3 separate regions of the Homo sapiens genome follow, and regions 2 and 3 are each linked to region 1. Evidence: fine-mapped expression QTL. A gene starts in region 1. Each other region holds a variant in brackets. All regions are shown on one strand. Distances are between the middles of the regions.

Evidence for each region. PIP is the estimated chance that this variant, and not a neighbour inherited with it, causes the effect. A credible set is the group of variants that fine-mapping cannot tell apart.
Region 2: its variant is the best candidate, but not a certain one, in a credible set for the expression of PLXNA2 in whole blood (TOPMed, PIP 0.58).
Region 3: its variant is the best candidate, but not a certain one, in a credible set for the expression of PLXNA2 in whole blood (TOPMed, PIP 0.77).

What each region holds. Positions count from the first base shown.
Region 1 is chr1:208,239,777-208,250,012 of GRCh38, forward strand. It overlaps PLXNA2 (plexin A2), which reads right to left and starts at 4,608. Exons shown (of 32, transcript NM_025179.4): 1 at 3,867-4,608. RefSeq lists enhancers at 3,146-3,647, 3,648-4,147 and a silencer at 4,666-4,725.
Region 2 is chr1:208,153,801-208,164,036 of GRCh38, forward strand. All of the region lies in intron 3 of PLXNA2 (plexin A2), which reads right to left. Among named protein-coding and RNA genes, the nearest start is that of PLXNA2, 85 kb to the right of the region's middle. RefSeq lists enhancers at 5,593-6,105, 6,106-6,616. The variant C/T (reference allele first, on the strand shown) is at 5,596.
Region 3 is chr1:208,490,746-208,500,981 of GRCh38, forward strand. No RefSeq gene overlaps it. Among named protein-coding and RNA genes, the nearest start is that of LINC01735, 120 kb to the right of the region's middle. The variant G/A (reference allele first, on the strand shown) is at 3,796.

The sequences.
Region 1 (10,236 bases):
CCTGCCCTGCAAACAACTGGCAATGCCTGGGTAAAGGGACAACTGGCAGTGCGTGGGAAGAGTATGCTGGGGTAGGGGAAGAAGGTGAGGAAGAGGTGAGTGGGGGTCAGTGGCTGAGCCTGGGGCTGTGGCAGGACAGTGGAGACACAGCAAATGTTAAGCTGGGGTGAAGGGGGGTATGGGGGAACACCTGCTGGTCCTCTGAGTTTCCCAGAGATATTCTTTCACCCAAGAGAGAGACAGAACCAGAGCAGGGAAGGCGGTTAATGGTTAACCAACTGTAGAAGCAGAGAACTTTTGCACTGCTCAGGCCTCAGCCATTTCTTTCAGCTCTGTGCCCTTCCTTCCTCCTCTCCCCTTACACTCTTACCCCGCAAGGACCCTGCTCCCCAACAAAGAACTTTCTCGCCTCTATTTATGCCCTCCAATTCCAGATGGAGCAGTGTGGAGCTAGATAAAGAGGTTCCATATGCCCAAATGCCAGGGAATGAGGCCCAGGAGAGCCTGAGGGCTAAGCCCAGGAGGACGGGGATATCCTCTTCTTACCAGCCATCCCTCCCTCGTGCCTTGAGACCAGCTGTTTGACCCTGGGAAGAACTGCCTTTCTCTCTGTCTCCATAGGGCTCACCTTTAGAAATGACCGAAAAAGAAGTGGATGCACACCCACCCCTCATTTACTCTAATCAGGCATGAAATCTTTGTAACGAAGTGAAAAAACTGTTCAGGGAACTGGTTCCATTCATCATTGTTTGAACTGAGCATATGTGAAGGGTAGAAATAGAATATTCACATATAATGAATTGATAACAGACTGCCCCTGGGTGGGGCGGTGGTGATTGGGGCTGAGGGGGGAACGCACACGAGCTGTAAAACTCCCAGCACCTCAAAGCCTGTTTCTACCAGTTTCCCTATGGACAGTCAGTCCTGAATTATTTCTAGTTAACAGACTGTAACACAATGCTCCAGTCTCTTTATGATCAGAATGGGGGTGGGGGGTGGGGGCTTGGCTAGGCGCTCCTTGCCTCTCCATTTGCCATGATGGACAGAAGTATATTGTGCCTCAGTTCGTGTGTGTGGAGACAGCTGTGTGGCAATGCAGGGAGACAGCTGGTGGTGGTGGGGAGGTGCTGCTGGAGACAGGAATTGCCTCCCCCACACCAAACCCTATATCTTAGGGAGGCAATCATAGAAAATGAGGTAGGATAGAAACTATAAAACCCCCAAACAGTGACAACTCCAGCACCATAAATATTTCATAGCACCTAAAGTGGTGAGTTTAGGCTGCTGTCAGCTGCTGCCTTGTATATTTAACCATGTCACTGGTTTCCCCTCCTGTTCCTATGTTTTCTTGTAACCTGCCCATGAAATAAAGATTAGCTGAGTAAGCAGAAGTATTGGTAAATGGGAAAGGGACCTAGGAAACAGGTAGCTGTTCTTTGAGGGCTTTCTTTTTAACCTCATTTTAAGTGCAGACTTCAGTAAAACAGATGGTGAAGGAACTTTTACATTCACCGCATCTGCAGCTTTTGATGGTCAAGAGAGTTGCAGGGTGAATGTTCCCTGGTGCTCTGAAGACAGGGATAGGTATTCAGACTAGCTCTGAAAGGGGGGCCACCAACCTTGTAATGACATGGTTTTGGGCGATGGACATAAGACACTGCCATACTCTTCATTTAGACTTGGGCTGAAAAGCTAGCCAGCCCCCCTGTCCTGCTCCAGGCTTTGAGGGACCCCTGTCCTTATGCCCTGCCAAAAAGAAGGACCAGCTGGGATTTCCTTGGCAGACTCATGGTCCCTGGATAGAGATCTCCTGGTACTTTACCACTGCTGCTCCTCAGCATCTTCCCTGCACATCGCTCCAAATGTCATTTCCATTTAACTGCTTTGCAAGCCAGTTTGCCCCCATCCTAATGCAATTTGCTGAGGACAGTGAGGGAGCAGAGAGGGTAATCTGCATTGCCCTCCCTTTATCAGCAGGTCCCTGAAGACGATCGGCTGCGGAGTGGAGGGAAATAGCTCCTTTAGGTAATGCTGGTTGGTGGCAGCAGGGGCAAGTTCTGGAATGAGGAGGGGTTGGTGGTGATGCCAGGTGGAAGAAGGGGAATGAAAAACAACCTCGCTATGACAGATTCCACTGTTTCCTTGGTTCCCTACCCTTTCTCTTCACTGCCCCTTCAGCCTCCAGGCCACCACCAAGGAGAGATCCCAGGTAATTAGTTCAAATGGTGCTCCGTGAAGAGAGAGGGAAGTTAATGAATTCTTCTCTTTTCTTGCCTGGAGGTCAGAGGGGAGAGGGCTGCAAGCAACTCTGGGAGCTTTCTGGGGTTATTGCATAAAAGTTGTGCATTTCAGTTAGGAATAGCTGAATTCCTCCAGCCAAGGTTATCTCTTCCTGGGGCTCTGTCAATCAGTAGAAGGCCCCAGAATCCAAAGCCAACCCAGAGGGAAGAGTGAAGTTTCAAGATCTGGGAAAGAAGCCCAGCAAAGGAGGGAGACTGCTATTGTGTGGGGAGAGGGGAGAGCTAAACCTGACTCCTGCTCTCAAAGCCTCCAGCCCAGGCCAGCCAAGATACTCATCTTGGCCTGCCGCTCATAAGCCTTGTCCACTGTGCGCGTGAATGGAAGGAAATGAATGTGCCCCCAAATTTCTGTGGGTTCTTCCAAACTGATGGGCCCCCAAGTGACTGCCTCAAGCTATGACTGGCAGTCCCAGTCCCCTCAAACTGATGCTGCCTTCATGTCCCTTGTGCACTTTCTACTGGTGTGCCACTGTCACTCTAAGATTCCTACAGGGGACCTGTTCAGATTTCCATTGCCCACTTCATGGGGCTCTCATTTCTAGACCCTTACTGACCTAGAGCCCCAAATCTTTTATCCAACTTCCTCCCCACCATTATTTCTATCCCTCCTGAGCAGAGCTGAGTTTGAGTAGGTAGCTCCCACTAGGGCAAGGGTCATTCCAAACAGGTGGACTTTTTTCGGGGATCTAAAATGGTAGTTTCTGGTGACTCTCTGGGCATCTAGACCATGATTGGCATTATAGAGACTACCTGTGGGATGGATAAAAAGGGCTAGAATTTTCTAGGATCCCTACCTCACTTGTGGGGTGGGGCAAGAAAGAGCACATGGAAGGAAACATTCTCAAATGGTTCATAAGGAGCCTCTGGGACCCTAAGCAAACTCCCATTTCAACCCCCAGCACTCCTGTGGTGCTCAAACTAAGGGGCTGGACCCCTGCTGGGCGATACACCGCAAAGGGAGCCCCGGGAGATGAAACACTTAGACCCATTCAGTGCCTAGGAATCTCTCCCTGAGCCTTATGGAACCCGCGCAAATGATGTTTTCCCATTCCCCTGATCTCCAGTCCCCGATCGGAAGGGAGAGCCGGCGGCCACCAGGGACCCCGGCACTGGAGTGAACGCCCCCAAATCGATCGCTGGCCAGTGTGGCTTTGGGCTGTCTCGCTGGTGCCACCGAGGCCCTCTTTGGGCTCCAGCTCTCAGGACAGCCTTGCCGCCCCGAGCTCCCCAAAGCCGCAGAGCGCCGGCAGGTGCGCGGTGGAGGCGCGCCGCGGAGCGCTGCTGCCGCCCTCAGCCCGCATTCGGGAAGCCGGCGGGCTGCCGGCCGGGAAGCCCTCGGCGGGAGGCAGCGGCTCCAGTGAGCCTGCGATCGCGCGCACGCCGCGCTCCAGCCCGCGAAAGTGGCCGAGCCCACGCGGGGACTCGCCCGCCGCGGCCAAGCCGGGTCTTCTGGGGCCGGGACCCCAAAGAGGCGGGCGCGGGAGAAGCCGCCACGGGTGTGCGCGCCTGTGGGGAGAGGGCGGAGGGCGCTGCCGACTCCGAGCGCCCGGCCCAGCCGCCGCTTACCCAGCTCGGCGACGTCGGTCTGTCCTTCCGTCCCCGCTCGGTCTACCTCGGCCGCCGCCGGCTGCTGAGGGCGGCGCGAGGCCCCTCTCCCTGCCCGCAGCTCGGAATCAGGGAGACGACCAAATCCACATGGAGTCCAAATTCATTAAAATCCACGTCAAGCCACCAGACACTTATCTGTATTCCTGAAGTCGCTCCTCGGTCTCCGCTCCGCGCGCCCCTCAGTCCTCCGTCGCCCCGCAGCAGCCCGGCTGGGCGCTGTCGCCGGCTCTCAGGGGGCACCCGGAGGCGCCGAGGGGGCGTGTGGGGGCGGCCGGCGGTGTCTCTCCTGAGGAAGAAGCAGAGCCCCGGCTGTCTTCAGATTTTTCCAGCGCGACTTTCCGGGCTCCTCTGACATCAGCAATCCCGGCGCTTCCTTCCCTTCTTGCTCTCCGGTTCGTTCACAGTCCCATTTCCTCCGGGAGCCTGGCTTTCCAGATCTATTTCGAGGTTTGCTCCGCTGGCTGCGGCGCTCGCACGCCCTACCGCTCCCAAGCTCTCGGGGTCTCTCTCCGGATCGCTCGCCCTCTCGGCTGAAAAATTCCCAGCAACTGCCCTCCGCCGCCCTCCCGCTCCAGTCTGGCGCGGATGCCGCTCCTCCCGGCAGCTCTGGCTCCCGCGGTGGCGGCGGCGGCGGCGGCGGCGGCGGCGGCGGAGGAGCCCTGAGCGCCGGCCTCCCTATTTCACCATGCAGCTCATTATCATAGAGGCCGCGCGCGTTAACCCCCTCCCCGCCGGCCGCGTCCGCCCGGGCTGGGGCCGCGCCCGCTGCTGGCACCGCCCGCCACCGCCAGCACCCTGCCCCCTCCCCCGCCCGCGCGGACTTCCTCCTCCGCAAGCTGTCAACAAAGGAGAAGCAGGTTTGGCATCCGGAGGCCGCTCGGCTGCCTGTCCTGCGCCCAGCTCAGCCCGGACCCATCGGCCACCTTAAGTAGCCAAGGGGGCAAGGAAAATGCTGCCAGGGCCCGGGAATTCGAGTCGGGCCTTGCGAGCCCAGCTGGCTTGGCCCCCGGGGGAATAGAAGGTCTAGCGTTGGGGTTAGGGGGGAGCTCAGAACACAGGAAGAGTGGGTGAGGGCAGTAGGGACAGGGAATCCCCCCCATTCGCATCACCTGTCACCGCACACATCCTGCACACCTCCCTCTTCATCTGTAATTTGAGTGAGGGGTGAGTGGGGAGGAACGGGGCTTGTCTGGTAGGGTTGAGACTAGAGTCTTGGAATTTGTGGGAGCAAATTTCCTCTTCTTGTAAATTAAAAAAAGAAAAAGGCCAACAAGCTGTCAAATAAGGCTTGAAGTTGTTGTTATTATTATTATTGCAATGAGAAGATGAACCTTGCTCTGAATTGAATCTCAAACTTCCAGCCCTGATAGGGATCCTGGGCATCTGGTAAGTCCCGACTTGCATGGGGGCATTGGGGACGGGAGAAGAGCTTTCTATATCCAATTCAGAGAATCTTTCTGGCAGGGTAATCAGAGGGGTGGCAATAAGATAACTTATTTTAATAACCTAAGGTGAGAGGTTTCGGGATTCTGGATGACAATGTCTCGGTGCCCTCAAGGCCACTGATTCCTCGCCACACAGTCTCAGTAACTCCGCAGCCTCTAGACACGGCTTTCCGGAAGCGGCCTGCAAGCTGGACCCCAGCGAGTTCGCAGGATCTGCGTAGTCCCTGCTCGCGATTAGAGCGCACACGAGTTTACTCCTGTCCAAGTATTCTGATAAGCTTCCTCTACTGCCCTCTCGTGGCCACAGTCCTCAGTGGTATAAATCTAAAAAACAACAAAAATCACTGCGAATACCTAAAAGCAATTGCACCAAATTCTTAGAGCAGTAGCGGCAGAAGAAACGAAGGGAGGGAAGGATGAAGAAAGGGAGCCGGAGAAAAGAGAGAGAGAGAGGAAGAAGAAAAGGAAATCTAGACTAACCAGTCATCTCGAACAATCGCACATTCAACACAGGACTGGGGGATCTAGGCTTTACTCCAACATCTGCAGAAATCAGCGAATTCTTCAAAAGTTCTTCATTGTAATTAGCTGAAATTTGTGTTCCTGTAACTTTCACTGGCTACTGCTAGTTTTGTCCTGTGGGACCACAAAGAATCTGTCTAAGCTGTGTTGCCTGATCCATACCTGTTCTTTCCTTCAAACTTCTTTAGCATTCATTGTTGGTAACACACCAATAAATTATCATATTTACCCTGTGTTATTATTTATTTATTTTTATAAGTAGATCTTGTCTCCCCATGCAGACAGACTAGTCGATCGTTTTATCTCTGGGTAGACTGAATCTAAACCACAATTTATTAAAAAAGATGATTTGAAGAAGATGCTAGAAGATTTTGGAACACTTCCTCCATTTGTTCATGGAGTTTGGCCAGCTACACCTAAGACCAGCCGTGGTAGGATTGGAGATATCTAATTGATAAAGCTCCAAGCTGAAAATTAGGGCCCTCTGGTTCTAAATCAAGTGGTGTCTGACTCTGGAAGAGGTCACCTCTCTTCCCTATGCCTCAATTTAATCACACCTTGGGAAGATTATGATACAATTGAAATAATTTTCTCATATGCCACCCTCCACTCCTGTGGTCCAGAAATAAATCTTAGAATGAAGAGCAAGGAAGCATAAAATGAAACAGACTCTTCCACTCACCCCATCTTTTATCCCCACACCTCCCCTCTCTTTCCTGAATAAAGGGAGAGAAAGAGGGAACACAGGCGGGAGGACACATTGTGGCTGACAGGGTGGCACGACGCCATCCAGATTCCACATTGCCACTGAACAGGGTCTAAGATCTGAGTCCTGTGAGACTATGGAAGAGCCTGTGGTCAGCATAGCAATGGAAAGAGCGCTAACTTGATCTACTGGGAGGTACAGTGGATGAAGTACCTCTAACTTCTCTAGGCCACAGTTTGTCCATCTGTAAGATGGGAATTTCTGTCTTCACTCTCCAGACAACTGGGGGAATTAAAATAGATATATGTAAGCGTGTTGGAAGAAGTAATAGTATCATCAAAATGGAAAGATTGTTGTTATATTTAGTCCTAATAGGCTAGAACAAATATGGATCTTATTAGCTAAACATCTAATTACCATAACATGCTCTGAGAATTTAAAAAAAAACCAAAACCTTGGGTTCATGGTTCGTATTTAGATTTGACATCCTCTGAGGCAACAGCGGTATACCTGAACCTCTAGTCTTTACATCTGCTCGTTAACCTTCTCCCTTTGATCTGGGTATTCATTCATTTATTACGCAAATATTTATGAAGAGCAAATTTACTAAATTTCTTCCTTTAATGGAACTATATACAGTCCATAATTACTGCTTTGGCACATATTTTTAAAGAAAGCATGGCAATAACCCTACAGATTCTATAACCTCAGATCTATCTCTTTCTGAGGTTTCTGGTTTTCTTGTATGTTTCTGCCCTTCACTATATTCTTCCTCATTCTGTCCATCTGATATCAGGCCCACAGCCCCTTGGGACTGACCAGTCCTCTGTCAGGGCCTTGTAGTTCGTCCTCATTTCCATCTGGAAGGATAGATGTAGTGCAACATATTTGTGAGCAGGCTGTCGATATTTAACAAATATTTATCAAATGAATGAACAAATGAATGAATGGGGAAATGTTTATCTTATGCCAAATCCTCATCATTGGAAAATCATAGCACACTCAACAGGGTTCTCCACTCACCCCAACCTACCTACCTTCCCTAGTCAAGATATTCCTGGAACCTCACCTTGAAAGTCATTTGTCACTTCTGCATTCTTGTTCCAGGCCCCAGGCCTCTTCTTTGCTTGTCAAAGAAGCAAGCTAAGTAACTAGATGGGTTACTTAAGCAAGAGAATGAGAGAAGTGGGAGAGGACAGGGCACCAACATTCTGGAATGCCACAGAATGTTTCCTGTGAAGAATGAATATTTCTCCTGTGGAAGGCAGGTTTGGCTAAGATGCTGCCACCTGCATTTTCCAGGCTGGGAGCAGGCCTTGGCCCTGGAAAGCAAGCTCTTAGACTTTGGGGAGCACAGGCCCAAATGGGCAACTAGCCCATCCCTAGGGGAAGTCCTTTATGTCACAGCAGCAGCTCCAGCCCCACAAATAGATGCCAGTACAGTAGCCCCTCGGATCACAGGAGGTATTTTTGGTGCTGGAAGCCAGCCACACTTTGGCAGGCTTTCAGCATCAAGTCTGTTCCCTTTAGAGGCGGGGGGTGGCAAGCTATCAGTGTTTAGCATGGGAATGCTGCCTGAGAGTGTGTGCATGCATATATTTACGGTGCCTTGAGTCGGCTGGGAGGTGGGCTCAGGAGGATGTGTGCCTGGACCTGTGCTTGGGAGCCAAGGGTGCTCCTGCTTGCCAGTGTCAGAGGGCAATGTTTGGATGGTGCACTGGCTGTTGCCCGGTTTGTACCTGGCTCCCAAAGCTGAGACCACTGATGCCACCACCAAGTTGATTGGTCTCTGCTCTAAGATGCATGTCATCTTTCACTTGCCCTGAGCCCAGGCTTGCCACTATAGACAGGCAGGAATGTGGTCCCTTCTGTCTCCCTACCAGGTACCTCACCTTCATCCAGCAGATGCTGTCAGGCAACCCCAGCAGCAGAGCAGCCTCCCCTTAACCCCTACATTGTTAGGAACAAAGGGATTGGTCCAGACAGGCCAGCCTGGAGTGTGTGGGCCAAGTCCTGTGAATGGAAGAGAGAGACTGCGGGATGCCAGAGTGGTGGGTCTCAGCCCAGGCAACGGGGCTGGCAGCCCAGGACACAGGAACAGGGCATCTGCTCCGGGGTTCTCAGTACCATTCATAAAGACGTCACCCTTCCCTCCCCTCCCCTCCCCTCTCCTCCCTTCACAAATCCCACTTTCCTGTGTACTTTAAACAGTAGCAAGCCTGTTAAGGCTCCAAATCAAACAAGGCAGGATTTCGCTCCTTTCTCACTAAACCTCCCACGAGCAGAGCTTATGTCCCTGTATACCTCGTCCTCTTTCCCTAACCCTCCCTCCCCTCCTCCATCCATCTAGTGTGTTGCTCTGGGAGAAGAATATTCTCTGTGAAGCCCAGGCAACTGCAGTCCCAAACCTACTTAAATAGGTCCCTGGAACAGTTTGCAAGGCTCTGGCATTTGCAAGGTCAGAAGGCTTCAGAGGAGGGGTGGGGTAGGGGAGTGTGGACAACTGGGCTCCAGGCATGGAAGGTGAAGGCTGAGGCTCAGGACTTATTTTTTTTTTTGCTCTATTCCTAGCACTAAGGGTCAGGAAAAGGGCCTTCCTCTCTTATTTTTTCTAAAAGAATCCCCCCAAAGGAGAAACTAATCATTTGGTCACATAATCCCTGGGTAAATCTCTTGGTGCCTCAGTTTCCTCCTTTATAAAGTGGAATAATGTCCCTTGCATTTCATGTCTTGCAAGATGCTGACTATGAAAGAGCTTCACAAGCCAGAAAGCATTATACAAATCCATGGGAATGTTCTCTTAAAACCTGAAAGTTCCATCCGGAGGCAAACCTATTTCCCAACTGTACAACTGCAGTTCTTCTCTTGGTTGGTTTTCTAGGAAAAACAGCTGGGCTCACCAGAAATATCCCTTTGCTTATGGGGTCATTGTTGTCCATCACCTCGGGGTCCCTCCTTCTCTCCTACTCTTCCACTCAAAAATGCTGCAGAGAAAAAGAGATTCTGTCCACAAACCTTCATCTATGGAATCACAAAGCACACCCAGGCTGGAGTTGGTCCTCATTACTAAGCAGCCCACGTACACACCCACACCCTCCCAGGGAGCAAGAGAAGAGAGGGGCGGCTGAGGTGCCTTGGAGAACACGCTGTGATTGCATAGAAATTAGCATGGTCCCATTCCCTGTGGGCTGAGATGTATTATGTGAATGTGCTTTTGGGGTCCACCCCTGCTCAGCAGCCCTCACTGGCCAGGAATCCCCTGCCTGTTCTGAGTCACTGACCTCCTGTCTTTGCTGCATAGCCTGGTTCAGAGGACAGTTGCTGCCAGAACTACAGTTGGGTTCTAAGGCTTTCTGAGGGCTCAATGTCTTCTGGGCGGGCCTGCCAGGGCTTTCTCGGGGTGGGGGGGGGGGGTAAGACTGGACAAAATCAGCGCCATTTATTTGCTTTGAGATCAGAAATTCACAGAACTGGTAGGAAGTAATCATTTTGTCCCATCGTCTTCATTGAGACAAAACAATACTTTTTCTTCAGTTGCCCATAATTATCAAAATATAATGGTATAAGTTAAAATATATTGAATTCCTACTCTGTGCTAATCCTAATCCTCACAACTCTAATCTTACAAGGTAATTAAGTAATTATTATCACCCAC
Region 2 (10,236 bases), 86 kb before region 1:
GTGCTCTGGTCTGCCTGACTGCTTGGCAGAGCCCAAGGGCAGAACAGACAGCTGGGGGAGGGTCTACCTCTTTTAAAAGATTCTGTTTGAATAGCTGTCATCTTCACACCTTTTCCCATCTCCCCTCCCAGGAGAGGGGCTTTAATAATGAGCTGCTTCATGAAAACAGGCCCCTAATTAATTCATTGCTATTCTTCTGGGGCCAGATCATTCTAATCAAGGTGGGGTGGGGGTGGGGTGGTGAGTAAGGATTGTCTCGATCTGCTTGTTCTTCCATGGACTCTCTTTGCTCCCTGCCATCACTGCTCCAAGACCCTCCCCGGTCACCTTGTTCTCTTTGGCTGGACACCTGCTTGTCCTCAATGCCCACCCCCTTTTTGTGCTAACGCCCCACAGCTGCTGGGCAGAGTGCCAGCGTGAAGACTCTGCTGGTGCTGGGTACAGTACAGCAGGTGCCCGGATCTCACCGCAGAGTGGGAGGAAGAGAAGCAGGGCTTGGCCCTGTGAGGAAGGAACTTTGTCCTGCCTTTTCTCTGAGCATTCTCAGAATATCCAGTGGGCTCAACGGTAGGCAAAGTGCAGCCTCTATTCTTCTCCTTAGGACTCCCCAAGTCCTCCTGGCCCCTGAGAAGTTGGCACTACCTAGGATTCATGTGCTGTTGGGCCTGGACAGCCACATCATCGCACCCAAAAAGTGGCAGTGGCTGCAGAGGATGTGCATGGATGACCAAGGACTAAGACCAAGGGAGCTACACTAGGGCCAACTCAAAACAAAAATAACTTTAAAAAAATTCTCCCCTCTCCAAGTCAGATCACAGCAAGAGACGATGGAAGTGAGAGATTGTACAAGTCTCGCCTTGGGCAGTCTCTTCATAGATTTTTTTTGATTTCCTTTCTAGATCTTCCAAGCTCTGCATTTCCATCTTCCCTTCCAATAGACATTGATTGTCCAGCGAAGGCTGATGTCTAGCTCACTGGGGTGGAGGCCACGCAGGGGCACTCAGCCAAGGGAGTTAATTCTCACTTTCCTCATCTACAAAACTGGTAACACAACATGCCAGCATGACAAGGCAGCGGCGGGAACAAATGAGATAAGGAATGTGAAAGCATTTGGGAAACTGGAAAGGAAAGCATGAAAGAGGGATTTTGGATTGATTTATCTCTGATTCATAGACTTGGGTGGGACCAGACTGAGGAGGAAAATTGGGCTGGGAGGAAATTCTTCAGGGGGACATGGGGGAAATTAGTACCTCCTCCTCTGTCCTTTCCAAGGGAGCAGGACTGCGGGGAGGAGGAGCGGGAGGCAGCAGAGGGTTAGCAGGTGCATGGAGCGCGAACCCCTTGCATAGTGGCCGTTCCAGCCTGCTTTTGAAGGCAGCCTCTCTCAGAGCAAGGAGGAGTCGTTTGACTAGGGTCTCCACAGGACCGGTGCTGGGGACACAGAGGGCCGCAGTCACTGGGCCGAAGGGATGGCAGCCTTCTGTCTCAGACCCTTTTCACTTTGTGAAATAGAGAAAAGCAAGGGGGAGGCTCCAGTCCTTCACCCACAGAGAGAAGGCAGCTCGGGGCAAACCTACCCACTGCTAATATGCTCCTTAAAAAGTGCTGAAAGGAGCTATAGCCTGGCTTTTGTGTAAAGTACTAAAGCATCCCTCATTCTGCCCCTCCCACACCCCCACTCTTCTAGGATTTTTTTCTCTTAAAAGAGTGCTCCACCTCTCCAGGGACTGGAGTCATTAACTGAACAGCACTTTGCCTCTCATAGCTTTTGACAATTTGGCAGTAAGTTGGAAAGTACCAGAGAAACTGCAAAGAAGCGGAGGTGAGGATGGGGAGGGCAGGACCAAGGGGATGTGCCTGGAGGACCCGCCTGGGGCCTACCTGACTCCTGGCCCAACACCCGGCTGCACTGGACTTGTCCCACCCTCCCTGCCCAGCTCTGGCTCATGGGATGCTGAGCTCTGGCTCATGGGATGCTGGGCTCCAGCTGTCACAGGGGTGTGGTGGGGTGTGCAGGGGAGCATCACATGGCTTCCCATCTTCACCCCCTCTTGCTATAGCCTGGAGGCTGCCTGGGTCTGGCTGACAACCAATCTGGACAAAGGGATCCCTCCAGGAAATGTGGGAGTTAATGCCCTTCATTCTGCCTGACACCAGGACCTCCCCATGAAGCGCAGTGAAGGAGTACCTGAGGCTTAAGGAAAGGAGAGCCTATGTGGCTGGTGAGGGAGGATGGCCTAAATAATGACCCTGGGGCAGCAAAATCCAAGTCCTGGGCATTTCCTAAGTGGGGAAAGCAGGGTGAAAGAAAGGAGGGTTATGGATTTCCCAGTCAAGTTGTGATATAAACAGATCAAAGGGAGAGGTTTCTCGGGTTCCTGAGATGACCTATGTTGGAATATTTCCAGTTCAGCTTTAGACATCCTGACTATTAGGAAGCGAACGGCTTTGGGGGCATTCATCGAAAGAAGTAATGAGTCTTCAGCTTCCCTGGAGTGGATCGGAAGACTCTTGCTCCTCTCACCCCACTAGGAACTCATCCCTATTTAACAATCCTAGAATGTGAGCATAGCTATACTATTGAGCACATGCTACGAATTGGACATGACGCCAGGCATCTTATGTAAATGATTTACATGCAAATCATTTACAAAACCCATTTCACTGATGAAACCCAAAACCCATTTCACTGATGAAGAAACTGAGGCTCAGAGAGGTTAAGTGACTGCCTTAGGCCACACAGCCAGCCAGTAGTAGAAAGGCATGCAAACGAGTCAGTTTGATTATAAAATCTTTTATTAATCCATTTACTTCCCTAAAATACACTCACCTTTGTCTTGTGTATAATGTTAACATCTTACTGTCTGTCATTTTAATGCTCTTATTCTGCTGTCTGAGCCTCATCTAAGTGCCAACATAAATTATAAATTCCCAGATGTAGAAGTTGAATCTATATAGTTCATTTTATTCAACTTTTAGCAGAGTGCCAAGCATGACAGGGTGCTTAAAAATTGCATTCTATACTTGAATCAAGTGAGAGCTCCAGAAAGCCGTAAACTTGGACCACAAAAGCCAAACCAGCAAGCTTCCTTTTCCCTCACAGCCTCATATACTTATTTTTCAGCATTTGTTACTCCATAAGAATAACACATCGAATGCTGCTTGTTGCATGGAAGTCACAGCCTTGGCACTTTGTCAGGAGCTAATACAAGAAATTGCCATATAAAAGAAGCATCTGATTTGGATGTCAAACTCTTGTCCTGGTGTCTGTACAGGTCTCACATGATAAATAATTTACAGAATGTAATGTCTGGGAAATGTCCTGAAAAGTAGGGACACTGCCTTCTCTCAAAGTGTAAAGATTTCTTGCTCATTTCATTTCCCTTTATGACTTGGCTGCTGGGACACTCAGGCCAAATCTCATGCTGGATCCTGGTGCCTATGTTGACCTTCTTGGTAACATATGTGTTTCTACTCCCTTTATGGCTTGGCTTTTCTAGTTCTAAGACAGTTATCATTCCATGTTGGCCAAATCTTTTATTGTAAGTCATCTTAATTCCTTCTTTGGAAAGAAGTGAGATATGAATACACACAAATAATTATGCTCAGGTCTTTTCTTTGTACCCTATGAATCTGTACCTGTTGTACATTGCCTCAAAATATTCTCAGGTCTTTTTACTCTGTGCTTATATCATTTGCCTCTTTAAGGAAGAGTTGGCCAGTGGATGTTTCTGAGTGAGGGTCTGGGCTACTCTCAGGATGTTGTAAGTGAGGGGCTGGATGACAGGGGTGAGGTGGGGAGATACCACTCAAAATGGAAAGCCAGTGGTTGATTTGTATTCCACTGCACTAATAAAAATTCATAGACTCCTGGGAAGAGTAGCTGTGTAAGGTTCCGGGTTCAAGTTCTGGGTATTTGAGAACAGTGTGCTTGTAAGGAGAGCCACGGGGGTGGAGGAGAAACTCCTATGGGTCTGGCCCATAATAAAGCTCTGTAATTATTTGTAAAATGGAAGAATGAATGAATAAATTAATGAATGAATGCTTTTCTGGCCAAGAGATTCTTCTCATAGGAGAGAAGGCAAGACTGTTTGGCAGAAAGCCCCATCTTCAGGCCACAGAGGAGACTCAAGATCACTAGGAGCCCAGCGGAGTCCAAGCTTTCCACACCATCCTTGTCCCCAGCCAGGCCAAAGCATTCCTCACTGGCACCGTGTGCTGTGAAACCAGGCCAGTGTGCTGGACACCAGGGGAAAGAGAGTGGGAAGTGGGAAAGAAGGAAGGTAGGAAGGAGGGAGGACAGAAGCCTAGGTACAGCTTCTGATGCCTTTCTCTTCTTCCCCGTTGAAAGAGACAGTCACATAAATACTAGTCCACAGTGAGTGTGGGGAGAGAAATGGTGGTCTCTAAACCTGTGTCCCTCTGTCTGTTTTTACTCAAAATCTCCTCTTAACACCCACCTGCGTCTCTCTTTCTCCTTCCCTTCCTTGTCTCTCTCCCATCAATCCCCAGATCTCTCCATATACATTGTTTCTTTCTCTGTGCTGTCTCTACTTCTTTCTCCCTGTGTCTGTCTCCTCTCTCATACATACACATGACCTCTCCAAGATTCCCAAAAGAGAAGCTCCTCAGAGACCTGCATTTCCCCCTGTCTGCCCCAGACTCCAGAGGCAGTTAAGGGCAGAAGACACCAGCCCCAGAGCATGGGGGCTCTACCACCTCCCAAACTGACCTGTGCCCAAACCTGGACTTTCATTCTAATCCCAGTGGCCTTGCCGACATCAGTTGGACTAATTTTTTCCTGTAATTAAAAGGAACACCCCCCAACTCCATCTCTAATCCCACATAATTAGCTCTCTGATTGCCAGTGCTGGGCAGGAAACCTCCTGTTTGGAGAGGGATTTTGGACAGAAAGATTAGGCAAACACTATGCAGGAAGCTGCGCTGGGAAAACAGGCTGTTCTCAAAGTTTGTTGTTAAAAGAGATTTGTGGTGGGCAAAAGGGCCTGATTCCCTACAGGTGGTCTGAGCTGCCTCTGACCCTGTCGGGTTCTCCAACAAATGGGTCGCTTTTCTTGGCTTTCAAGATCCTCCCTGTGGTGGAGCCCTGCAGTGGGCTCTATCTCCAGCACATGGGGCAAGGAGTATTCCCAGGAAGCACATTCCTTCCTGCTCCCAGGGAGGACTGTGCTTCTCTGCATGGGAGAGGGAGGGAGAGCCGCATAGGCATCTACCCCCACAGGCTAGCTGGGCGATGGTCAAAGGTTACTGAAATATGGCAGGTGACAACAAAACCACCATGACTCCAATCAACCTAGGGAGTGGGAGAAATGCCAGGAAAATGGGGAAACCCCTTCCCTAGAGGCTCTGGGGAGGGCTCCTCAGAGCTGGGCATTGATTCTCCCAGCCAATGTTGTCCTTTGTCCATCTAACAGGCACTGCATTATCATCTGCTAGGCTGAGGGTATGCTGAAGGTAATGACATTTTGTTTGTTTCTATCACCTAATTTTTCTTTTTTGATCTTCATGATCATCCTGTGGGGGGAAGTACCTTCCCATAGAAGAGGAACTGAGTCCTGGTGAAAGCACACAACT[C/T]CCTCAAAATCACCAAGCAAACAGCTGGGGAGCCTATGCTAAAGTACCAGGCTCCAGGAAGACGGCTGCCCCTGCTCTTTGCACAATCCCACGTCCTCCAGCTCGTGCTCTTTCTGTCTTGAGAGTCTGGGCATTTAGGATGTTGGAGTCAGAGGAGACTGGGGACACCAGCCATCCAAGGGGATTTAGGACTCTGACAGCCAAGGGCTGGTCAACTCCTCTGTGAAGATCTGAAAGTCTGGTGCTACCGTGACGCCCACTTGCAATTCTTGCTGACATGGACTGGAGCTGGCATTCTCAGGCCCTCTAAATAACCTCAGGAGGGCCGGATCTCTGATGCTGCTTCGCCATCTCTGTACTACTCAAAGCCGTAAGATTATTCACTCTGGTTCTCAGAGAGGAAGGGGCAGGAACTGAAGCCAGGGGCTGGTGAGTGGGAGGGTGAACCTGTGCTTCCAGAGCCAGGGAGGGACAGCAGGGGCTGGTGGGCTGGCACTTGGGGGATTTTACAGCCTGCTGGTTGAGGTGCCTGGCCCTGCTCCTCCACCATGGCTTCTGCAGTGAGCTCAGGACATGGGGGAGGGAGCCAGGCCATGGATGGATTCCAGATGGGCTATCAGGTTTGCCCACAGTCGACTGTAAGGCTCCTCTGGTCTCGGCAGCTCCCTCAGCTCTGATTCAGCTGCACTCGGAAGGCCTGCTATGGAATGCCAGTGAAACCCAACCCGTCTCTCCCACCAGAGCCTCCCTCACTCCTTCTGCTACCAGAGATAGATAGCATGTTTTTTCTCTGTCCCTTCTTCCCTTCATTAGTACAACCCCCCCCGCCCAGAAGTAGAAAGGGTTATTGCGGGGAATTTAGTTGACAGCTGGGCCTCTGGCTCTGGAGCTCTGAACTATTTCCCCCTGGGAAGAGTAGCTGTATAAGGTTCTGGGTTCAAGTTCTGGGTATTTGAGAACAGTGTGCTTGTAAGGAGAGCCACGGGGTGGAGGAGAAACTCCTTGTGTCCCTCTGATTGCCAGATCAGTCTAGCTGGCCCTGACCCAGGCATGGGAGGGAGGAACACAGAACTAGGTAGAACACGGCAGCCAGATATCTGATACTCAACAGCATCTCATTGTTGCGTGGCTTCCACACAGGAACGTCATCTCATTCAATCTGCCCAACAGGCTGGAAGAAAGACAAGCCTTCTTTATCCCCAATCTGCAGACAGATATACCAAGGCTCTGAGAGGTTTAGAGCACAGATTTGGTTTTGGTCTCCTGAATCTTGCCATAAACATTTTTGAGGACCTGCTATGTGCTAAGGATAGCATTCATGCTCTGGGGCACAGAAACAAATGCAACACAGATCATGCCACAGAAACCAGTGCTGTTTTCCTATGTCACATAATTCATAGATTAATTATTCTCAGAGAGGGCCCACTGGGCCTTGTACTATAATAGACTTTTACACGTCCCCATCTCTCCACTGCTATTTTAAAAAGATCAAGTTCATTTCTACCTTGTAGAGACAGGAAGGAATTACTGCAAGTGGCATGAGGGAATCACATCAGGATTTCCTGCCTCAGTTTCCCCTTTGTTATCAAAATTCTGCTTTCTGGTGATTTGCTTCTGGAGTTTTCAGAATATTCCATCTCAGCCTCCTCCACCCAGAGCTGCTGCTCCTAGTCGCCCAGGTCTGCCTTGGATCCTTTGTTAATGACTGGCAGGCTGGAGGTGATGTTGCCTTATCAGGGTTGATTAGTTGGGCTGAAATTTACATTTTGCTTCAGAAAACCAGTCTGGAATCTCTGGCAGAAAGCAGCAGGGATCCAGCTTCAATAGAGAATGCCCCTGAGGCCCAGGCATTTGAATGAACCACAGAAGCCTTTTCTACCCTCTCCCTCTCCTTCCTCAATCCCCTTCTCACCTCTCCCCTCACACCAGAAGGCTGGTGAACTGCAGCAAAGGGCTCTCTGAATGTGCTTGCAGAAGAAAAGGCTTTATTTTATTTTTTGCTTCTTCAAAGAAAATATGAAGCTCCCTCCAGCCTCTCTGGAGAATCAGCTAGGGAACAGTCTGTCTCAAAATGCCATTAAAACATCTCTCAAATTAAAAACAGTCCTGAAATGTGCAACTTCACGAGAGAGTAGATTACTAATACGCAAATGGTGGACTCTGACCACCTGAGGGCACGGACGAGTGGCCAAGGCTCTGTCCTATGGTGCACGAGTGTCCTTGGGCAGGACATTTAGCCTCTCTGAGCCTCAGCTTCATCCCATTAATAATAATAAAAAAATTGTTATCTTCCTCCTCCTTAATTTCAGGGTGCTTTGGAGGGAGAAGTGGTCCTGTTACTCTCAGAGATAACGGTCTTGGTTCTCATCACATTCATCTCCAGCCTCTCTCCCCTGCCCTCCCTTTTTCTCCACAGTCATGGTGCTATTTTAAGTTGAGGCTTCCAGCCAAAATCTGTACTTTATTAATTACGCGTCAACTACTCTGTGTCATGTTTAATGCATTTTCCAGATTGTATTGAATCCACAGTAAAAGGAGGAGTCTGAATGTGGCCTGGGTGCCTGGCAGGGTAGGTGCTGGGAGGAGAGGGGGAGCAGGAGCCAGCCTGTGTGTGCCTCAACTTGATCTCTCCCCTTCTTCGCCCTGGAGTCTCCATTGAGGCCAAGCGTAAATCCTGCTTGTAGCTCCTTAGAGCTCTCTATTTAAAGAACACGCAGCACCCTGTGTAGAAGCACAGCACCCTGATGGGAAGGTAGAAAAACCTGCCTCATTAGGAAAGGCCAAAGGGCTCAGGACAGCTGACATCCATTAGCAGGAAGGGCAGAAGGCTGAGGGTGATTGGAAAATGTGACTCAGTGATATGCCAAGGGAAGACTGGAGATGACACTGACCATCTGTTCTTCTCCAAAGAGGAGGTAGAAATAGCATTTGTATTGGAGCAGGAGAGATGTGAGCTAGACCTGGGTATTACATTCCTGACTGCTAGGTTTCCAGAGCTGTTTCTAGCTGTGTGATTTGGGCAAGTCCTTCAGTTTATTGGGCCTCAGTTGACTGATATATAAAATTAGCATTTACTCAAGGTGAGCCCTGAGGTCCTTTCTAGCTTTGGCCCTTTGTGCTTCTTTCTTTGAGGAGACTATGGGGAGAAGCAGAATCTTTTTAGGGGAGTACAAAGATGAATCCTGCATGCTTCTTGATCTCCAGGAGTTCACAATCAGGCAAGGAAGGCAGATAAACTATGAAATAAACATAATAACAAACAGGTACTGTTCCGTGTGCTTTACCTGTATGAAGACATTAAATGCCTACAATAGCTCTATGAGGTAGGTCCTGTTATTATCTCTGTATGCCTGATGAAGAAAGTAAGGCATTGAGAGGTTAAGTAGCTTGCCCAAAGTCATACTCCTAGTAAGAACAGAGCCAGGTTTTGAGCTCAAATAATCCCACTCCAAAGTCTGTGACATTCACCACTGTGCACACTGCCTCTAACAAAGAAATACAAGCAACTCACATACAAGGCTGACTCTGCTAAGTGCTGTAACCAATGATAAGAAATGTGGGATTATAGAGGGGCAAATCAGGAAGGCTTCACTGAGGAGGTGTGATATAACTTAAACCTGAAAGGACAGGGCACTTCATCAGGCAGAGAGAGGGAGGCATGGCAGGGACAGCTTGAGTCAAGACATAGGCATGGACTGACCCTTGAGCCAAGGCACAGGGGCACTTAGGGAAGAGGGAGGGATTGGCAAAGCTGGAAGAACAGGGTGTGAGTGTGGCAGAAGTGGCATGGGGAAGGGATGTAGGGAGGGATAAACTGTTTCTGGTGGAGGGATGCCAAGACCTTGCTCAAGAGACTCAGCTATACCCTACCTACAAGCTGCGGAGAGCCATTAAATGATATAAAAAATGTGAAAGCTAACTTAGAGAAGGCAGGGCAGGAGCCAGCACAAGTTCAAGAATAGATAATAAAAGTCTCAGCCTGGGCTGGGGGAGGGAGGTGGAAAGGAGGGCAGGTGAGGGAAAAGATGAACAGACAAGATTTGGCAGCAAACTCAATGTGGGAAATGAGAGAGAGGGAGCAGTATGGGAGTTAGAGAGCTCACCTTTGCCTGGGATGGCTGGTGGGAAATGTGGATGGGTGGCCCCAAGGGGCATGGGGTAGGGAGCTCTAAACTGTGCATATTAGGGATGAGACAGAGAGGCTGACAAAGCATTTACAATTCAGCTTAAATATTGCTTCCCCAGGAAGCTTTTCCTGATCCCTTTTCTCCCAGTAGTTCTGGTTCCCTAGTTACAGGTTCCCATGCTGCTTATTGAACTTTGGACATCTCTACAACACTGGCCAGCCATGTAATAAGCAGTTATTTGTGCAACAACTTGCTGGTGTCCTTTCTCCCAACCATCCTTTGTTTTGTTGAGTTTGGTGTCCCCAGTGCTGAACACAGTGCCTGGCAAGTCGATGCTCCATAAATTCTTGCTAAATGAATTGATGATCTCTGCCTCTGGGCCAGATGCCCTTCTCCCACTCTTGGATGTCAGCATGTGGGGGGCTTCTCATCACCACCCCCACAAAGGGGCCGCTTCCCCCCATGGAGCACAGGAAGGCAGGTGTATTCATGTGTTCACCTGTCCACTCTGCCC
Region 3 (10,236 bases), 250 kb after region 1:
TGTTCTCTCATCTCTCTTCTTCCTTAGAAACTCCAATTACATATATTAGGCATATAATGGTTGAATTAGTTATTTGATGCTTTGTTCATTGTTTCCTTTTCTTTTCTCTTTGTATTTTATTTTGGATAGTTTCTGTTGCTATGTTTTAAAATTCACTATTATTTTCTGCAATTCTAGTCTATCATTAATTACATGCAGTGTATTCTTTATTTCACACATTGTAGTTTTCATTTATAGAAGTTCAATGTGTATCTTTTTCATCTTCCATGACTCTACTTAACTTTTTGTTAGGTATAGTTTATTTATTTATTTTTTGTATAACTTTATGAGGTAGTTGCACAATTTTGTTATATGCAAAGATACATAGTGGCGAAGTCAGACCTTCCAGGGTACCATCACCTGAATAATGTACATTCTATCCATTAACTTAACTTTGTGAAAATATAAAATGGTTATAATAATTGTTTTAGTGACTTTTCTGCTAATTCTAACACTTGTGTGCTATTCTCAGTTTGTTTTTATTGACCAATTGGTATCCTCATTTTGAATTGCATTTTCCTACTTCTTGTCATGCCTTGAATTTTGTTATTTTAAAAAATAATTTCAACTTTTTTTTTGAGTTTCAAGGGGTACCTGTGCAGGTTACTTACAGCATGCACCATGAGTATATTGTACGATGCTGAGGTTTGGAGTTCAAATGATCCCATCATCCAGGTAGTGAGAAGAGTACCCAATAAGTAGTTTCTGAGCCCTTGTCCACTGCCTCCCTTCTGCCTCTATCAGTTCCCCATGCCTGTTGTTCCCAATTTTATGTATACGTTTGCCCAATGCTTAGCTCCCACTTATAAGTGAGAACATGTGGTATTCGGTTTTCTGTTCCTGTATTAATTCGCTTAGGATAATGGCCTCCAGCTGCATCCATGTTACTGCAAAGGAAATTATTTCATTCTTTTTTTATGGCTGTGTAGAATTCTATGGCATATATGAACTTCTTTTCTTTATCTAATCCCATGGTGGATTCTTTATCTAATCTACCATGGGATTAGAAAAAGAAAAGAAGTGGGCACCTAGCTTGATTCCATGTCTTTGCTATTGTGAATAGCGCCACAATGAACATATGAGTGCATGTGCCTTTTTGGTAGAACAATTTATTTTCCTATATTTATATACCAAGTAATGTTATTGCTGGGTTGAATGGTAGCTCTTAAAAGTTCTTTGAGAAATCTCCAAACTGCTTTCCACAGTGGCAGAATGAATCTACATTCCCAGCAACAGTGTATAATCATTTCCTTTTCTCCACAGCCTCACCAGTATCTGTTGTATTTTAAAATTTTAAACATGTTGAGTTAATTTTTGCATATGGTTCAAAGTTGGCACCTATCTTCATTCTTCTGGATATGATTGAACAGGTATCTCAGTACTATTTATTGAATAGGGAATCCTTTCCTCATTGCTCATTTCTGTTTACTTTGTCAAAAATCAGATGACTATAGAAGTGTGGCTTTATTTCTAGGGTCTCTACTCTGTTCCATGGATCTATGCGTCTATGTTTTTGTACTAGTACCATGCTGTTTTGGTTACCGTAGCGTTATAGTATTAGTTGAAGTCAGGTAATGAGATGCCTCTAGCTTTGTTCTTTTTGCTTGGAATTGTTTTGGCTATTCCGGCTTTTTTTTTTTACTCCATATAAATTTTATAATATTTTTCCATAATTCTGTAAAAAATGACATTGGTACTTTGGTAGAAATAACAATGAATCTGTAGATTGCTTTGGGCAGTATGGCCATTTTAATGATATTGATTCTTCCAAACTATGAGCATGGAATATTTTTTTTTCATTTGTTTGTATCATCTATGATTTTTTTTAGTCATGTTTTATAGTTCTCCTTATAGAGATCTTTTACCTTCTTGGTTAGATGTATTCCTAGATACTTCATTTTTCTGCAGCTATTGTAAATGGGATTGTGTTATTGGTTTGGCCCTCAGTTTGAATGTTACTGGTGTATAGAAATGCTACTGATTTCTGTACATTGATTTTATATCCTGAAACTTTACTGAAGTCATTTATCAGTTCTAGGAGCTTTTTGGTAGAGTCTTTAGGGATTTTTGGTATAGAATCATATCATCAGTGAAGAGAGATAATTTGCCTCCTTTTTCCCATTTGGATGCCTTTTATTTCTTTCTCTTGCCTGATAGCTCTAGCAAGGACTTCCAGTACTCTGTTGAATAGGAGTGGTGAGAGTAGGCATCCTTGTCTTATTCTTGTTCTTAAGGAAAATGTTTTCAGCTTTTGCCAGCTCAGTATGATGTTGGCTGTGGGTTTGTCATAAATGAGCCTTATTATTTTGAGGTATGTTCCTTCAGTGCTTAGTTTTTTGAAGATTTCTATCATAAAGGGATGTTGGATTTTATCAAAAGCTTTCTCCATGTCTATTGAAATGATCATACATTTTTGTTTTACATGCTGCTTATGTGGTGAATCACACTTATCGATTTGCCTGTGTTGAACCAACCTTGTGTCCTAGAAATGAAGCCGACTTGACTGTGGTGAATTAACTTTTTGATGTACTGCTGGATTCATTTTGCTAATATTTTGCTGAGGATTTTTGTGTCTATATTTATCAGGGATATTGGCCCGTAGTGGTACAATTCAGCTGTGAATCCATCTGTGGCTTGTTTGATTGATAGGTTTTTATTATTATTATCATTATTATTATTACTGATTCAATTTTAGAACTCAATATTGGTGTGTTCAGGATTTTGATTTCTTCCTGAGTCAATCTTGGGATGTTGTGTGTTTCCAGGAGTTTATCCATTTCCTCTAGATTTTCTAGTATGTATGCCTAGAGGTGTTCATCATAGTCTCTGAGGATCATTTATATTTCTGTGGGGTTGGTTGTAATGCCACCTTTGCCATTTCTGATTCTGCTTATTTGCATATTCTCTTTTTTGTGTTGTTTTTTAATGTAGCTAGCAGTCTACTGAATTTGTTTGTCTTTTCGAATAACCAACTTCTGGTTTCAGTGATTCTTCATATGGTATTTTGGGTCTGAATTTTTTTCAGTTCTGCTCCAATTTAAATTATTTCTTTTCTTCTGCTAACTTTGAAGTTAGTTTGGTATTGTTTTTCTAGCTTCTCTAGCTTCTTTTCTTGTCGTTTCTAGGTGTGACATTAGACCATTAATTTGAAATCTTTCTAACTTTCTGATATAGGCATTCAATGTTATGAACTTTCCTCTTAACACTGCTTCTGCTGCATCTCAGAGATTTTGGTATGTTGTATATCTGTTTTTAATATTTCAAGTAATTTTTTTGTTTCTGCCTTAATTTATTTAATTTCCGTCTAATTGTGTTGTTTTGAGAGATCTTCTTGATATTTATTTCTATTTGTATTCCACTGTGGTTTGAGAGTATAGTTGGTATGATTTCAATTTTTTTGAACTTATTGAAACTTGCTTTATGGCCATACATGTGGTCTATCTTAGACTATGTTCTGTGTGCAGATAAGAATGTATATTCTTTGGTTGATGGGTGGAGTATCCTGCAGATATCTATTAGGTCCTATTGCTCATGTGTTGAATTTAAGTCCAAAATGTCTTTGTTAATTTTCTATGTTAATAATTTGTCTAATGCTGTCAGTAGGGCATTAAAATCCCCCACTATTATTGTGTAACTGTTCAAGTCTTTTGTAGGCCTAGAAGTACTTGTTTTATTATTAATCTGGGTATTCTAATGTTGGGTGTGTTTATATTTAGAATAATTAAGCCTTCTTGTTGAACTGAACTTGTTATCATT[G/A]TGTAATGTTCCCCTTTGTCCTTTTTTACTGTTGTTAGTTTAAAGTCTGTTTTATCTAATATGAGAATAATTACCCCACTCTTTTTAATTTTCTGTTTGTTGATAGATCTTTCTCCAACAAATCAAAGGCTTTACTTTGAGCTTGTGGGTGTCATTGTGAGTGAGATGGGTCTCTTCAAGAAAGATAGATGGGTCTTGTCTTTTTTTTTTTTTTCCTAGCCAAGTTGCCATTTTATGCCTTTGAAGTGGGGCATTTAGACAATTTACATTTAAGGTTAATATTGAGATTGTGAGGGTTTGATCATATTGTGAACTTAGCTGGCTTCTTTGCAGTTTCTAGTGTGTGGTTGCGTCATAGGGTCTGTGGGCCATGTACTTTAATGTGTTTTTGTGGTATCAGGCATTGTGTTTTTATTTCCATGTTTGGAACTCCATTAAGGATCTCTTGTAAGTCTTGTCTAGTGGTAATGAATTCCCTTAGCACTTGATTATCTAGAAAGTATTTTATTTTTCCTTAGCTTATGAAGCTTAGTTTGGTGGGAAATGAAATTCATGGTTGGAATTTCTTTTCTTTGAGAATGCTGAAAATAGGCCCCCAATCTCTCCTGGCTTGTAAGGTTTCTGCTGAGAAGTCTACTGTTAGCCTGATGGGGTTCCCTTTGTACGTGATCTGACCTTTTTCTCTAGCTGCCTTTAAGATTTTTTCTTTAGCATTGATGTTGGACAGTCTGGTGACTATATGCTTTGGGGGTGTTCATTTTGTATAATATCTCCAGGACACCTGTATAATCCAGATGTTCTCTGGATTTCTTGTATCTGGATGTCTACTGCTCTATCAAGATTAGAGAACTTTTCTTGAATTATTCCCTCAAATATATTTTCTAGTTTGTTTACTTTTTCTCCTCTCTCAGGAATGCCAATAATTCATTGGTTTAGTCATTTTACATAATCCCATATGTCTCAAAGATAATCCCATATTTCTCAAAGACTTTGTGTGCTTTTTAAATTTCTTTTTTTAAAAAAATTCTTGTCTGGCTTGGTTAGTTTAAAAGGCTGTTTTTCAAGCTTTGAAATTATTTCTTCTGCTTGGTATAGTCTATTGATAAAGCTGTCAATTGTGTTTTGAAATTGCTTAAGTAAGTTTTTTAATTCCAGAAGCTCTGATTTATTTTTTTAAAGATGTTTATCTCTTCTTCCATTTCCTGGATTGCTTTAAAAGTTTTTTTGTGTGTTGATTTTCAGTCTTGTCCTGGATCTCATTGAGCTTCCTTGCAATCCATGCTTTGAATTCTTTGTCTGTCATTTCTGAGTTTCCATTTTGTTAGGGACTATTGCTGGAAAACTAGTGTGATCTTTTGGTGGTGTTACTACATTCAGATTTTTCATAGTGCCAGAATTCTTGTGCCGGTTTCTTCTCATTTGGAGATGCTGGCAATTCTAACTTTTATAACCATTTTTATGTGGATAAGATTTTTTCTTTTTCATTTTTTCCCTGTAATATTATTATTATTTTAAAATTTTCCTTTTCCTTCTCCCCACCAGGGGGTGTGGCTTTAGAGAATGCTGGGTAGGGTCTCTTGGTTTTGCTTTTATAGCTGTATGCACTTCTGTCAGCAGGTTTTATATTGGGCTAACCTACAAGCCAGTAGATGGTGCTTATGGGTAAGAGCCAGCTGTGGCAGATATGGCTGGGTATATACTTGATGCATGTTTACTGGGAGAAACTCTCTGCTGCCTCAGGCAGTGAGCTGATCTGTGAAGTACACAGTGGTCTGAGTTCCCTGCTCAGCTCTGGAGTGGGGAGAGGGGTACAGGTGAGGCAAAAATGCAAGGGGAGGGACCAGGTATGGCACAAGCACCAGTGCTGAGGGAGAATATAATGAACAGCCACCAAACACCCAGACGTGTGTCTAGATGTGGAGCTGGGAAACCTCCTTGTCCCTAAGTACTCTGCATGGGGAGGGGGTGTGGCCTAAACTGCTAATTCAGGAGACTGGGTGCTTCAGATACCTAGAGATTTGCCAGGGCATGAAGTATGGAAGGCCCTGCTGTACCAAGGTTTCTGCACAGGATGGGTGAGGTGTTTCAGGCTGCTAATCCAAGTGAGCTGTTACTCTGAATGCCTGGAGACATGCCTAGGCATGGGCAGAGAGGGCCCTGCTGTACCACAACGTATACGGTGGCTCAGGCTGCTAATCCAGGTGAGTGGGTGCTTTGACTGCCTGGAGAGCTGCATGGGTATGGAGCAGAGAGGCCCCTGCTACATCATAATCTCTGCACAGGAAGGGTGGAGTGGCTGCTGGTCCAACTGAGTGGGTGCTCCAAATGCCTGGTGATCTGCCAGGCATGGAGTGGAAGGAGCCCCCCTGCACCAGGATCTCTGTGTAGGAACGGTGGGGCAGCTCAGGTTGCTCATCCAGGCGAGTAGGTGCCCCAAATGCCTGGAGATCTGCCTGAGTGTGGAGCAGATAGGGCCTCATCGCACCAAGATCTCAGGGCAGCAGGCCAAGATCTTGGAGCCAAAGAGGCTTCCCAGCTCCACATGTAGGCACACCTCTGGGTGCTCGGTGACTGCTGAAGGTATTCTCCCTCAGCACCCTGCAGGGACACATGCAGACAGGTTCCAGGTCACCAAGCTGGCCCTGGCTGCAAGTCTCGTTTCCCGGGAGAAACTGGGCCCAGGTTTGTAACATGGGGTGCGGGGGCACAATTCCAGCACCTACTGCTGAGGCGCTTTCCATAGCTATGTCTATGGAGGCTCCTACTCTGCTCCAAAGCACATGTTCCCGATCTCTGGCTTCAGATTAAAATGTCTATATGGCGACACTGCTGCGTTACCAAATGATGACTTTGTGTGTGCCCAGATTAAAACTGCTCCTGCTCCCAGTCTGGGAAAATGTCTGCAGCTTTTCCTAGTGTCTTTTCCTCTGAGGATCTCCAAGCCTGTCCCCAAGTTAGCTCTAGGTCTTGGGGAGAAACAAAGTTTTCTCCCTGGCTTGGGTGGCTTGGATCCCCAGTGGACAGGTGAGTCATGGAGGGTAGCTCTCTGCCTCTCCCGTGTTCTGGGGCTGCACTCACTCTTATCAGCTGAATGTCTTCACGGGGGCTTTTTGCTGGTGTTCTCTTCCCCAGGATCTGGGGTGTCCCATTTCCATTTTGAAATAAAGCTCACAGAGTCAATTTTTATGCACTACCTTGCTATTTCCAAGTGGCTGAGGCATGTTAAAAGCCTCTAATGCCATCTTGGAAAAAAAATGAAATAATTTTCTTTTTCTTTTTTTTTTTTTTTCTGATGCCAGGTACTACACATTTACTTTGTTGGTTCTTAGATATGTTGTACTCTTTTAAATTGTCTTGAGCTTTGTTCTTGAATACAGTTAAGTTACTTTGAAACAGTCCGGCTCTCTTGGGTTTTGCTTTTAATCTTTGTTAAAAGGGACCAGAGTGGTATGTGGAGCAGCACTAAGGATTCTCCACCACTGAGGAAAGATTCCTCGGAATAGTTTACCCAAAGACCCATGAATCATAAAACCTTCCAGTTTGGCTGGTGGGAAAGGAACTATTCTTTGACCTATGTGAGCACTGGTTACTGTTCCTTCTAATCCTTTCTGAGTGGCTCTTTCTTCAGCCTCAGGGTTTTTCTCACATGCTTGCACTTAGTCTTCAGCTGAATACTCGAGCGGCACCCTCTACAATTGCCAGAGTTCTTTTCTGTAGTTCCCTTCTTTTCAGTATTCTCTCCTGTGCACCCCAGCCACCTGGTTCTCAGCTGACTTTGAGCTCTGTTTTCAGCTGAGTTTGAGCTCTGTTTATTCAGGGAGTCTGCCAAACTTTACCTGAGTTCTTCCTCCATGCTCCACATCCTGGAACCTCTATCAAGACCTAAGCTAGACCAATTGCTCACTGCATTTGTTTCCCATCCCTCAAATTATTCTTCATAATCTGCTATCTAGTGACTTGAAAATTATTTGCTTTTTTGTTTGCTTGTTTGTTTTTAGGAAGGAAGGTAAATCCAGTCATTGCTTACCCCATCTGGGTGGGAAGCAGAAGTCCTGGTGTTAACAATATTAGTAAAAGACAAAATAGGCTGGAATAAAAATATTATTAAGAATAACTAAGGGCATTGCATAAAAACTAAAGAATCTATTTAACAAGAAATATGAAATCCAGAATCTCAAGGAGTTTCTCTCATAGAATCCAAGTTCTTTAACCACAATACAATAAATTTTAAAATCATGAACAAAAAGATAGCCTTATAGAATCTCACGAAATATTGATACATGATAGGGTAATTCGGGGACATAAAGAACAGACTCATGTTTGAGGATAAAAGGGTTAATACTAAGAATATATAAAGAACTTGTACAGATTGATCATAAATCCCAATAGAAAAATAGGCACAAGATTTAGCAAACATTTTGTAAAATAAGAAACATGAATGTTTAATAAACACAAAAGACACTCATTTTCCCAGTAAGCAGGGAAATGCTAGAGCAACAGTAATTTGGTGAAATCTCTAGCATATTTGACAGTTAGAACACATAATTTTTTAACACCTCCCTCCTCTGTACAACAAAATTATTTTCAGTGACAATTATGAAATGAAGCTATATGTGATTTTGAAGGCACTATATAGTTCAAAGTAGATCTAGATGTTGCGTCACTTCCTCTGGTTTTGTTTTGTTTCATAATTATCTTTGTTGAACTTCACTGAGTCAATGTCATTATGTCGGGTTCCCACTTCAAATCTCTTTACAAAATTCATAATAATTATGAGCCAATACAGTCATGGTTTCAAGTTCCTCCATGTTCCTACTAGAACGAGAAAAAAATCACAACTATTTATTCTACAGTTTTATATATACCTAATAGTTTGAATTTGGATCATTTGATAAAAATCAGATATAATATTTAATGTACATCATTGTCTAATAACTAATTAATAAATTTTAATAAAACCCTTTTTTCTTAATTCATACTTTAGTTTTAAAACAAAATGAATAAATTTCAATTTTAAAGATATCGTTCAGATTTAGCATGGCATTTTATGCACAAACTAAAATTGGCACTTATCAAACAAAAATATTAGACCTCCCAGTTTATACTCTGACTCACTGTTTTAAATATCAAACACAAATAAATACTCCAAGTGGTCACATAGAATGACAAATCTGAAATGACTCAAATTCTCTTTCTTTGCTTTTTCAGTCGTAGTGCCATCCTTGTTTATTTCAAATCTACTGTTTAAACACAGGAAGATGCAGTGCCACAGGGATTGCAGATAAGGTTTGAGCAGAAGCCCAAGCAAACATTCAGGCCATTATAAACTTACTCTCGAAATGAAGGCAGAAGCCGGGTGCGGTGGCTCATGCCTATAATCCCAGCACTTTGGGAGGCCAAGGCAGGTGGATATCTTAAGGTCAGGAGTTTGAGATCAGCCTGGCCAACATAGTCAAACCCCATCTCTACTAAAAATACAAAATTTAGCCAGGCATTGTGGTGGGTGCCTGTGATCCCAGCTACTCGGGAGGCTGAAGCAGGAGAATCACCTGAATCTGGGAGGTGTAGGTTGCAATGGCAGAGATCACCCTACTGCACTCCAGCCTGGGTGATGGAGTGACAGCCCATCTCAAAAAGAAAGAAAGAAATGAAATGAAGGCAGGTAGCTGAATCCATGTGTATTCAGGGTTGACTACGTAACTGGGAGTACTCCAATTTAACTTTCATGTAAAATATAATGTTTGTTAAAAGACAAGGAACAAATGTACTCATTTAAAGCTTACACATCTATTACTAATTTTTAATAATAACCATCACAGGGTAGGTTTTTTTTTCTCCTGGAGAGTAGGATGGATATTGGTAGTTCATTGGAAATGATCCAAAGCTGATGACTTAAAGTCTGTGGATACCAGGAGTTAGATAAATGGCTTGTCTGGGAAGAGCCGTTCCACAGCCAAAAGGAACAAGCATAGCCAGGCCATCAGGACAGCAGTGCCAGTGAGCAACAACAGCCACGGCTCTGATGAGCCAGTGACTGCAGCAGCTCTGGCAGAGAAAGCTGTAAAGTAATTAGTGCATCTGAAAATCCATTTAGGCATCTAGTTATATGACATCTCCAGATGGGGAGAGCAGCATTCTGATTCTGAAGGACACATATTTTAAGTGGATTAAGAAAGGAAATTATTTTAAATGTAGGAAGGTATAATTAACCTGAGGACCCTGGCTGCCATAAGATATTGTTGAGGGGAAGGACTAACGGAAACTCAGAACCCATTAGGCTTATGGCTGAATACATGGGGCGGTCCCATCTCCCTGGGAGTATTGTTCTGTGAGTGAATTTTAATTTGTGGGACAACAAAGCTTTGTGGGGACTATGCCCCAGGCAGGCTTGTGCTCTTTCGCGTGAGGACTTCATAAAAGCACCACCTATATGTGGATGCA